Linked DNA regions of Homo sapiens: region 1 is linked to region 2. The links come from fine-mapping of genetic effects on gene expression. A gene starts in region 2. The other region holds a variant in brackets. All regions are shown on one strand. Distances are from middle to middle. Region 1 overlaps SLC26A9 (solute carrier family 26 member 9). Region 2 holds the start of SLC26A9 (solute carrier family 26 member 9).

Evidence for each region.
Region 1: its variant is fine-mapped to the expression of SLC26A9 in aorta (GTEx, PIP 0.94).

What each region holds. Positions count from the first base shown.
Region 1 is chr1:205,915,404-205,920,770 of GRCh38, reverse strand. It overlaps SLC26A9 (solute carrier family 26 member 9), which reads left to right. Exons shown (of 21, transcript NM_052934.4): 18 at 541-595; 19 at 1,786-1,931; 20 at 3,417-3,488; 21 at 5,367. Among named protein-coding and RNA genes, the nearest start is that of SLC26A9-AS1, 17 kb to the left of the region's middle. RefSeq lists enhancers at 1-206, 207-738. The variant G/T (reference allele first, on the strand shown) is at 2,510.
Region 2 is chr1:205,940,236-205,945,602 of GRCh38, reverse strand. SLC26A9 (solute carrier family 26 member 9) reads left to right here and starts at 2,147. Exons shown (of 21, transcript NM_052934.4): 1 at 2,147-2,238. All of the region lies in intron 2 of SLC26A9-AS1 (SLC26A9 and RAB7B antisense RNA 1), which reads right to left.

The sequences.
Region 1 (5,367 bases), 25 kb after region 2:
ATCCCAGCACTTTGGGAGGCCAAGGCAGGTGGATCACAAGGTCAGGAGTTCAAGACCAGCCTGGCCAACATGGTGAAACCCCGCCTCTACTAAAAATACAAAAATTAGCCAGGTGTGGTGACGGGCCCCTGTAGTCCCAGCTACTCGGTAGGCTGAGGCAGAGAATTGCTTGAACCCAGGAGGCGGAGGTTGCAGCGAGCCAAGATCACGCCACTGCACTCCAGCCTGGGCAACAGAGTGAAACTCCATCTCAAAAGAAAAAAAAAGAAAATATCTAGCCCCACAAGAAGGGGCCATGGTGACTTTAAGTGCCCGCCACGTTGGCAAAAGTCCATTTCCGCTCCACTTCCCAGAGAAACCGTCAGCCAACACTCCAGGGAGAAGTGGTGTGCTTTGCTGCTATTTTTGTCTTTGGCTGCTGGGCTCTCAGGGTTGCTTATTTGTTTGGCTTCCCCTCTGAAGTACGTTTTGTGAATCACTTTTGAGACCCACTCAGAACATTCCTTTCCTTTTGCCTCCCTACCCCAACAACACTTCTAGCTGAGCTCCACCTATGGGAAGATCGGCGTGAAGGTCTTCTTGGTGAACATCCATGGTAAGAGAAAGAGGACATTTAGGGACTGAAAGACTGGCAAGGAGTGTGGGGTAGGAACAGGTTGGTGGGGTCTGAATAGTGAGGAGGTTGGAAACGAGAGCACCCAGCTATCCCCCACAAGCTGCTGCCTGCTCATAAAAGCTTCAGGTACAAGTCCAAAGAGACTGGTCAGATTGCATAAACATCCTAGGGGCCTTAGTGACAGAGTGGGGGTGAGGAGGTCATGGAGTTACAGAAGGACAGCTAGGATTCTAATCTACCCCATAACTAATTTGCCACGTATCCTTGGCCGAGTCACTTTATCTCTCAAGGGATCTATTTCTACCTATGTAAAACGAGAGGGTTGACTAGATGGATTTGGGGATCCTCTCCCAATCAGAAACTCTGTGAATCGATATAGGCATAGAGCACACGGTACCCTAATTCCCCAGGGAACATATAAATATGCAGTTTTGTAGGCATACAGCCTCCAAAGGGTGCATATACACAGCCTCAAGGACGTGGCCACAGGGCAGCAGACATTTACATGACTAGCATGTACGCAAAGTGCAGAGATGTGGGAGCAAGTGCACACAGACACACAGGAGAATGTGAAGGGGCACATACACACACACCCAGCTCCCTGCACTGGGTCAGACCCCCTCCAGCAGGGCTGCAGTTCCCAAGCTCCGCATGGCCACGTTCGGGGAGAGAATCTGCAGTGGCAATGACCTGCTATGATATGTTCTGGAGTTAGAAGCAGTGGATTCTCCCCAACCTCACTGGACACCCCCTCAGGAAACCATCTCTAGGATTAAGAGTAATCCACACAAACTTCCAATGCCACACATTGGAAGTTGCTGGAAAGGTCTGGGAAAACAAGAGGAAGGATGGGTCCTTGGGGGATAGAACTGGCAGCGGCCTCTTCAAGGATGGCTTAGGCTTTTCCACTCGAATCACCACAAAGTACTGACTCCCTAAATCAAACTGCTTCCTTCTGCTCTGGGTTGAAACTTCAGCATCCTCAAGTTCATGTTGCCCTCTGCCGTCCAAAACTGATATTGCACTGCCAATGCCATGGCCCTCAGATACAGCAAGAGCTGGGACCTCAGGCCTCTCCCATCCCTGCTCTGGTCTCACTATCTTCCCCACCCCCAGCTCCAATCCACAATGGCTGTTATCTTTCTGAAGGTGATCTTTTCTCCTTCTAGCCCAGGTGTACAATGACATTAGCCATGGAGGCGTCTTTGAGGATGGGAGTCTAGAATGCAAGCACGTCTTTCCCAGCATACATGACGCAGTCCTCTTTGCCCAGGCAAATGCTAGAGACGTGACCCCAGGACACAACTTCCAAGGGGTAAGGTTCTTGCACCTGGGGAATCCTAGGCTCCAAGGCACTGAAATAGCAGGACCAAGAGGCATTATTAGAAAGAACACAGGAGAAGGTTTAAGTTCCAATATCAAGTCTGCCATTTCAGTTTTCTGAATCTGTTTCCTTATCTATAGAATGAGCACCATCAACTAACATTACCTACCTCTCTGCATTTTTCTTTTATTTTGTTTTAGGGTTAAATGATAATTACATCTTTTGTGTCACTTGAAAGCACTTTGTGTATTGTAAAAATTCTTTATCAATATAAGTTTTCTGGTTGCACAAACACCCAAAGCATAGTAGAGCAGGCCCACTCTGCTGGCATCGTTCCCTGCCTCCTCCTCATCTCTTTCTAAAGGGGGCTTTCGGGAAGGGAGGGGAGGGGAGTAAGCCTACCCATTTTAACTTACCGGAGCTTAGAGATTTCAGGCTGGTGAGGGATAAAGAGATTGGGTCTGAGTTTTGTCTCAGCTTTTTGACATTTAATTTACTAGCTCAGTAAGTTACAAATGGGATACAAATAACACCATCTAAAACTCCAGAAGACTGGGGAGTCAGAAAAA[G/T]CCTACCTCCTTGGGGTCCCTGCCCAGATCCCCAGTCATCTCTAGCCCTCAGGGTCCCCTCCCAGCTCAGCTCCTGCCCTTGGCCTCCCAAGACTCTTGTTGTGCCCCAGCCCTGGGTAAAAACCTCCCCTGCCCTCTGTGGGTCATAAGAAAGGCTTTTCTGGCCCTAGAGCAATGATTTGCTCTTTGCCTTAAGAGACTGATGAAGGTGAAACCATCTGTTCTAAGTGCTGAAAGACTGCCCAGGAACACACAGGGCGCTGGCTCCTGCCCTCCATGCCTAGAGGGAAACCCTGGGGAAACAACGGGCTTTCCTGCTTCGTGAATTTGTCCGCAGAGCAAAGAGGGAGATTCTGGAGGAAGCTGCATTAGTTGTTAGTGCCCTAATCATGTTCAGCTACTCTAGTTGGTATGTATACTTGATTAGTCATAGACTTATAAATAATTTATATTTTATATAATATATACTTACATATTATAGACCATTCACAGATACAAATCACACACATAAACACACACCTTTTCAACAGCATTGTGAGGGACAAAGCAGGCAAAGTGAGGCTGGTTATCAGACTTGAACAGATTAGAAAATATATTCCCAGGAGGACAGGAATTCCCCAAGGTCAGGCAGCTAGCCAATAGTTTTTCTAAGCTGAGTAAAACCTTCCCTGCCTCTAACGGCCCACAAAGGAGGGAAGACCGCGATACACACCTGTCTGGTATAAGGGGGAAGACCACAGCCGTGCTGTTTTTGTGAGGCAGGTAAGGGAAGGGGCAAGAGGATAAGTCATGTGTCAGGAAGCAGCGTCCAACCAGAGCCGGCCACCTGTCCCTTTTCCTGCCACCATGCACCAACTTTGCTGTTCAGTCACTGAAGCTCATTCTGCACTGGCTTCCTCCCTTCCAGGCTCCAGGGGATGCTGAGCTCTCCTTGTACGACTCAGAGGAGGACATTCGCAGCTACTGGGACTTAGAGCAGGTGAGCTGAGGGAAGGGGCTGTGAGGGTGGGAGCAGGGCGAAGAGGGGAAGGATGGGGTCGCTGTCAAATACAAGGCGTTCACTCAGCTGTCTCACCTCCAGCCCAGAGCAGTCACATTCAAGGCCACAAAGATTTGTGGTCATCTTTGTTTTTTTTCTTTTCCTTTTCTTTTTTTTTTTTTTTTAATTTGAGACAAAGTCTCACTCTATCACCCAGACTGGAATGCAGTGGCATGATCTCAGCTCACTGCAACCTCTGCCTCCCGGGTTCCAGAGGTTCTCCTGCCTCAGCCTCCCGAGTAGCTGGGACTTCAGGCCTGCGCCCAGCTAATTTTTGTATTTTTAGTAGAGACAGCTTTTCACCATGTTGGCTGGGCTGGTCTCGAACTTCCGATCTCAAGCAATCTGCCTGCCTCGGTCTCCTAAGTGCCTGGATTACAGGCATAAGCCACGATGCCTGGCCTTTGTTTTCATTCTTCTCACTCCCTGAAAGTTATCGTGGGGAGAGGGTGAGTCACTGGACCAAGTCCTAGAGAACCAGTATCTATTCTTATTCTCCAACACATCACCCACGTGACCCTGAGCAAGCCACATACACCCTGGGCCCTAGTTTTTATCATCTGTGAAATTAGGGGAAACATAGGTAATACCTGTCCCATCCACCACACAAGATTGGCAGGGCAGTCACTTGTTCTTTCATTAATTCAGCAGGTATTTATGGCGTACCTACTGTTTGCCTGACACAGTTCAGGATGGGCACATAGCAGTGAGCAAAACAAAGGCCTCTGCCTTTTAGAAACTTACGTTATGGTAGAATAGATGGATTCTGGGTCTACAAATGAATTATTATTGCATGTGGACAAGCCTTAAGAACTAAAAAATATGTGGCTGGGTGCAATGGTTCACACCTGTAATCCCAGCACTTTGGGAGGCTGAGGTGGGCGGACCACCTGAGGTCAGGAGTTTGAGACCAGCCTGGCCAACATGGCGAAACCCCGTCTCTACTAAAAGCACAAAAATTAGCCAGGCGTAGTGGTGCATGCCTGTAGTCCCAGCTACTCGGAAGTCTGAGGCATGAGAATCACTTGAACCTGGGAGGCAGATGTTGCAGTGAGCCGAGATCGTGCCACTGCACTCCAGCTTGGGTGACAGAGCTAGACTGTCTCAAAAACAAACAAAACAAAACCTAAAAGATATGTGGATATGAGGGATCACCATCCCCATAGGGCCCCTGGATTAACACCACCCCACCAATGCCCTGAATTAAAAGAAACCAGATGACTAGGTTTGGAGAAATCTGGCTTTGGGTCTATGAGAAGTAGTGTCTCTCTTTGTGCCTCTTCCCATTCTTTTTGACATTGAGCTCCATGGTGCTCTGAATCCGTCTCTCACAGTGCTGATGGCAGGTGGGACAGATTAGAAAATAGAGCTGGAGCCACAGAGATTTGGCAGACTGATTTCGGTGCCCTCTTGGAATCTCCAGCACATTCCAAAAAGCCTGGATAGGACCAAAATAGCTTATCAACGTGAGAAAGGACTTCAGAGCTTGTCTACTGCCAACCCTCATTTTACCCAATGAGGAAAGTGAAGCTATTAGGGGGCGAGGGACACGTGGAAGGTCACACAGCACACAGGAGGTGATTCACATGTAGATTTCAGCACCTGCTCCTGCCACGCTGGACTGGTTCACCTCCTAGGCTGACCCTGCCTCTCCCCTGTTCACACACACTCTCGCACACACACACACACACACACACACACACAGGTGCTTTGTTCTGGCCAGGGGTTCCTAGGGTCACCTCTTGGTTGCAGCCACTGTGACCCCAACTGGTCTAACCTCTCTCTTCCCCTCCCACTTCCTTCCTGTGGTTCCTGCAGG
Region 2 (5,367 bases):
TTTTCTCATCAAAAAATGACAGTAACATGCCTATATGTTTGGTATAAGAATTAAACCAAATCACCTGTGGGAAAACCAAGTGTTACTGTGGAAACTAGGTCAGACTCAGGGGATACTAACTCACATTAATAAAACTCACACTGGACCAATGGGTAGCCCAGAATGTCCATGGGTCATTTAAAAGAGAAGCATGCCTGCAAAAGCAGCCCTAGTCGCTCCAACCAGCTGGGCAGTGCATTCTCTGCCCTAAAGGACATACAACCAGAAGATTCCCTGGTGGACATGGTGTCTCAGCAAGGGGACTTAGTTGTTTGATCTTGATAGCCACTGTCACCTGGCTATCGGAAGAACATAATGACTCATCTGCTTTCTAGGAATTTCCTGGGCAAAGTTTAGAACAGGTCAGGCTACCCATGACACTGGACAATACTGAAGATGCATGGACAAATTCTCGCCCTCTGGCTTTGCTTTGTTTAAAGACTCTATCATACAATTGTTCATTCATTCCTCAAATCTATATTGAGCTCCTCCTAAGTGCCGGGCACTGGGCTAGGTGGGTAGGGATACAAAAGAGGCACTGCCCCCTTGCCCTCCTCAGGGAGTTCACGGTGTTTGCAGAAAGACTGACAATTCCATACATAATTACCATTAATTGTGGTCAGTGTTATGAGAGTGAAGCAGAGGAAGCCAGAGGAACGAATGTGCAACATGTCAGCTAAGTCCACATAGGGGTCTGGGGAAGGGCTCCCCGAGGCAGTGTCCATGCACACATCCTTCCCTCAGCCAGGTGTCAGGGCACACTTGGGTCACTTGAATTCTGGCTCTCTTCAGCCAGTTGTCTGGCTACACCCTGACAACTCTGAGTGACCTCGGGTGTTTCCCTAGTCCCCACAAGCAATGCATCTACAAACTATCCCTTGGGTTGGGCTTGCAGACAATTCACTCTTTCATTCATTTAACAAATATTTATTGAGTCCCTATTAAGTACTGAAGCTAGCTCATTTCACCATGGGGAACTTTCGCCCCAACTTCCAGAGGTGCCTTACTGAAGCCCCCTGCACTGATTCCAGCCCACTTCAGAGCCTCTGGTTTCTTTTGGAGAGATGGGAGGACAGTTGAGGACGAGGACAGTGCAGCACTTGATGTCTCAAAGAATGGGCACCTGGTGTCGGGTAGTGACTCTCCCTCCCAGGAAGTAAATTAAGAAACTCCCCTACCCACCCTCCCAGCCCCTGTCCACAATTGCTTTCTGAGGTCCTTCCGTAGCACTCAATGGGCCTGGGATGGGCAGCTCTGCTGGCAGCAGCCGGAGCAGTGCCATGACCCAGGGAGACATTAATTCCTAGAAGCGGCAGAGGGCTGTGACTGGAGATTTGCTAGCCTTCAGGTCGCCTCTCATATAATTGTTCTAAGTCCAGTTTCTTGAGCTCTTTTATCAGATTCTAAACCCCTGTGTTCTCTTTGCACACTACCTGAGGGGCCAGGAATAATTTCCCCCATTGCACTGATGGATAGACCAAGGCACAGAGCTCACAAGCAACTTAACATTGGGGACAGAACTGGGAACCAGGTCTCCACCACAAACCAAAACCGCCTAAAGGCTCCCAGGGCCTCCCAGACATGGTTCTTCCCCTTCCTCAGGGGTGTTCAGAGGACTACTGTCTTCCCACCCCCTAGATCTCCAATCTTCAAAGCAAGCATCCCCAAGAGCACACCCCTCAGGTGGCCTCAATAGCTCCCATTGTCCAAGAGGCTCTTTGGCCTGACCCCCAGCCCCATAAGCAGCAGGACAGCAAGCTCAGAGGAGCTTGTCCTGCCTTGTCCCCCTCCTCTGCCTCGTCCCCCTCCTCCAGGGCCGCCTTGGGGGAGCCGGTGGGGCAGGAGCCCCGCTGAATGTGACCTATTGTCTTCGGGGTGGATTTAGGAAGTGCCAAGCTCCCATCACACAGCCCTGCTCCCCAGGTAAAACAAAAAAAGGGCTGTTCATTTGGGACCTTTTCCCCCTTATCTCCTTTTCCTATCTCCTCAGGCTTAGCTATGGTGTAGTGTTCAAAACCACTTCCCCTCTGAGCCAATCAGAAGCCGGGGCTCACCCCGTGGCCCTGAGGAAAAGTTATTTATAAACGCCTCCCTGGATTATTTGAGCAGAGCCCTTTCACACACCTCAGGAACACCTTTCGGCTGCCCGCTCCCCAGACACACCTGCAGCCCTGCCCAGCCGGCTTTGCTCACCCACTGGTAAGCCCCACCCAGCCCAGCCCACCCCACTGGGCTGGGGTCATCCCTGCAAGAGGGCAGTCACCAGGGGTACCGAGAGGAGGGATGACAGGAACCAACTGCCAAGCTGAGCACAAGTAGGAAGGACACTCTGGCCCCTGGAGTCTGAGAGCAGCCTCCCAGCCCTTCCCCTCTGAGGAGCCCTTTGGGTCTTCACGTCTATGTAAGGACCTGGGCTGCAAGGCTGGGCTTGACTGAGGGAGCAAGTAGGGTGAGGGTGTGGTGGTCGCCAGACCCCGAAACAGAGCGAGGCAAAGGCCTCCGAGGGAAAGGAAAATGTTAGACCTTCCTCCGCGACAGCCTTTGAAGCTGTGGGCTGCTCCTCTCCCTTTCTTTTCAAGTCTTGGAGGGAAAAGCTCTTAATGCTTGACTCACCAGCCTACTCTGCATGGCTGTCTCCCCCTCCTTCTACCGCCCAGACATCCTCCTTCACTCATGTACTTCTCCACCAGCTCGGGGAACTTAGCATGGACTACACAGAATCCCATGTGTCCCCATTAGTCCTGAGAAGTTGGAAGAGGTGGAGGGGGAGGAAACTGAGGAGTGGGAGAGGGTGAGCAAGGGACCAGCTCCATCAGGCAGGCGGGTGGGCGGTAGCTGGACCTGGGACGCCCGACTCAATGGTGAATGCTTCAACACAGAAGGGCTTGGGCCAGGACAGTGGATGGGCAGCCAGCTCTCCAGGCTCTCAGCCTCCAAACCCCTCATCCTGCAGCTCCAAGGGGTTCCAAGCCACTCTCAGGCAGTGCCCCCATTCCTCAAAACCAGCCCAGAGGGTCCCCAGCTGAGACCTAACAAAGCTTCTATTATTCCAGCATCAACTGCCCCCTTACACTTGGCCCCACGGGTCTGAGGACCAGAAGACCCTGGAGTGACGCAGCCCCCCAAGTGGGCAGACTGAGAGAGGGCTTTCCCCCTGAGTGGCTTCACTCATGCAGATGACCCTTTCTCAGAACCCCACAGTCCTCCCCCACCTCCCTCATCCTGGCCCTGGCATCCAGAACCTGGCAAGACCCTGCTTGGGCAGCATGGAGACCAGCATGGCCAAGAGCACCTCCACTGCCAGGAAGGCCTTCCCAGGCACTTCCCAGAGCTAGCCACCTGCTCTCTGAGTCTCATTTGTATAAACCCTGGGGCAGAGACGGACTCCTCTTTATCTTTTAATGCCCAGAGTCTTCCGGAGATTGGCATATACCCAGTATTCAAGAGTGCCTCTTAAACCGTACTAAACAGCCAGACTGACCCCCGTGAACTTGCTGGGGGAATCGAGGACCAGCTCAACACTGACCAAGCTTTGGGGGCTGTGGGGTCACTACTTGGAAGATGGAAGGGGCAGAGCCACCCCTTCAAGGGGAGTTGATCTTCACTGGATGCCTCTCTGGGCTTTCGCCTGGATTTCTGGGACCAGAGCAGCTGGGCCCTTCACTGGTCTCCTTGCCCAGGCCCTGCTTCCAAGTGAAAGCAACCCCAGTCTCCTTAAAGACTTCTAGGAATTTAACCTCAAGTGCCCATTCCAGGGAGCCCATGACCTTGTCAGTCTTGCTGTTAGGAAGTGATTCTCAAAGTCTAGCCTTGGTCCCTCTTTCTGGAGCCTATTTCCTCAGCCCAGCACCCATTCCCAGCAGGGAAAGTGCAGAGGAGGGAGAGTTCGCCTGGAGATAAGGAGTGGGGATTTGGGGGGTGGTATCAGTGAATCTCTCTCCTACACGGGATGCAGTCTCTAAGACACCTTAGGGACATCTCATCCTCCCCTACACTGAGGAGGAAATTAGGCTGGGGTGAGGAGTAGGGAGAGATTTGCCCTGGAAACACAGGGACAGTAGAAGGAAAAGGAGTGTTTAAAAATGCCTTGGGGGGCTGGGCGCAGTGGCTCAGCCTGTAATCTCAGCACTTTGGGAGGCCAAGGAGGGCAGATCACTTGAGGTCAGGAGTTCGAGACCAGGCTGGCCAACATGGCGAAACCCCGTCTCTACTAAAAATATAAAAAATATTAGCTGGGTGTCATGGCGCGCACCAGTAATCCCAGCTCCTAGGGAGGCTGAGGCAGGAGAATTGCTTGAACCCAGGAAGTGCACCCTGTGGTGAGCCAAGATCGTGCCACTGCACTCCAGCCTGGGTGACAGAGGGAGACTCCACCTCAAAAAACAAAAACAAAAAAACAAAACAAACAAACAAAAAAGCCTTAGGGGTGCAGAGGCCTCTACATCCTTCCTCCTCCTGCCATGGATGTGGTCTCCCACTGAGACCCCAGCCAGCTTGTCTGTCCCAGCTCACATTCACACCTGGGTCACTCAGAGGCTGCTCTTACCCTGTGGCCCCCACCCTGGATGAGGCAGGGAGGCAACCAGCAGCTAGAGCAAAGGGGAAACCTCAAGGTGACCTTTCCTCTTCCCAGAACACAGCAACCGGCTGGCTAGGAACCAGTGATAAGGATGCCAGGGTGGGTTGGCCCAGCCGGGGCTGTTCCCGTACCTGGCACACATGCGTCAAAAACCCCCTCCCTCACATGCACACCCCCGACAGGACTGAGGGAGGAAGTCAGCCTGGCCCACAGTGACAGGATCACCTCCAGATCCAACCAAAACCCACAAATGGACCCCTCACAGTCCTGCTCTGCAGATGTTCTACCCTCTTCTGACAAGATTTTCTGCTGTTCCTCTCATCAAGTCCTGGGAAAATTTGGAGGGGTTAAGGCATGGGGCAGCAGGTATAGGGGCAGATGGAAAAAGGCAAGCCAAAAAAAGGCAGAGTGCCCACTAGAGATGGCAGAGCAAGAAAGAGGCTCCTCTGGAGTCATAGCAGTAATGATGATAGTTGGAGTTTATTGCATGCTTCCCATGGCCAGGTGCCGTTCCGAGCCTTTCAGTGCATCCACTCGGGCACTGTCTCTGCCTGAGCCCATCTCTGCCCAAGCCCATCTCTGCCTACAATATTTGGATGGTGTTGACAGAGACCTGGTTAGAAATGTGACTGGGAGAAGGTACCAGGGGCGTGCTTTGGCATGAGCTCATTGGAGGAGAAATCCTGGAGAATCTCAAGAGGGAATCTGCTCCAGCCTGTGCCCTCCCTGCAGGGTCTATTTTCTCTTTG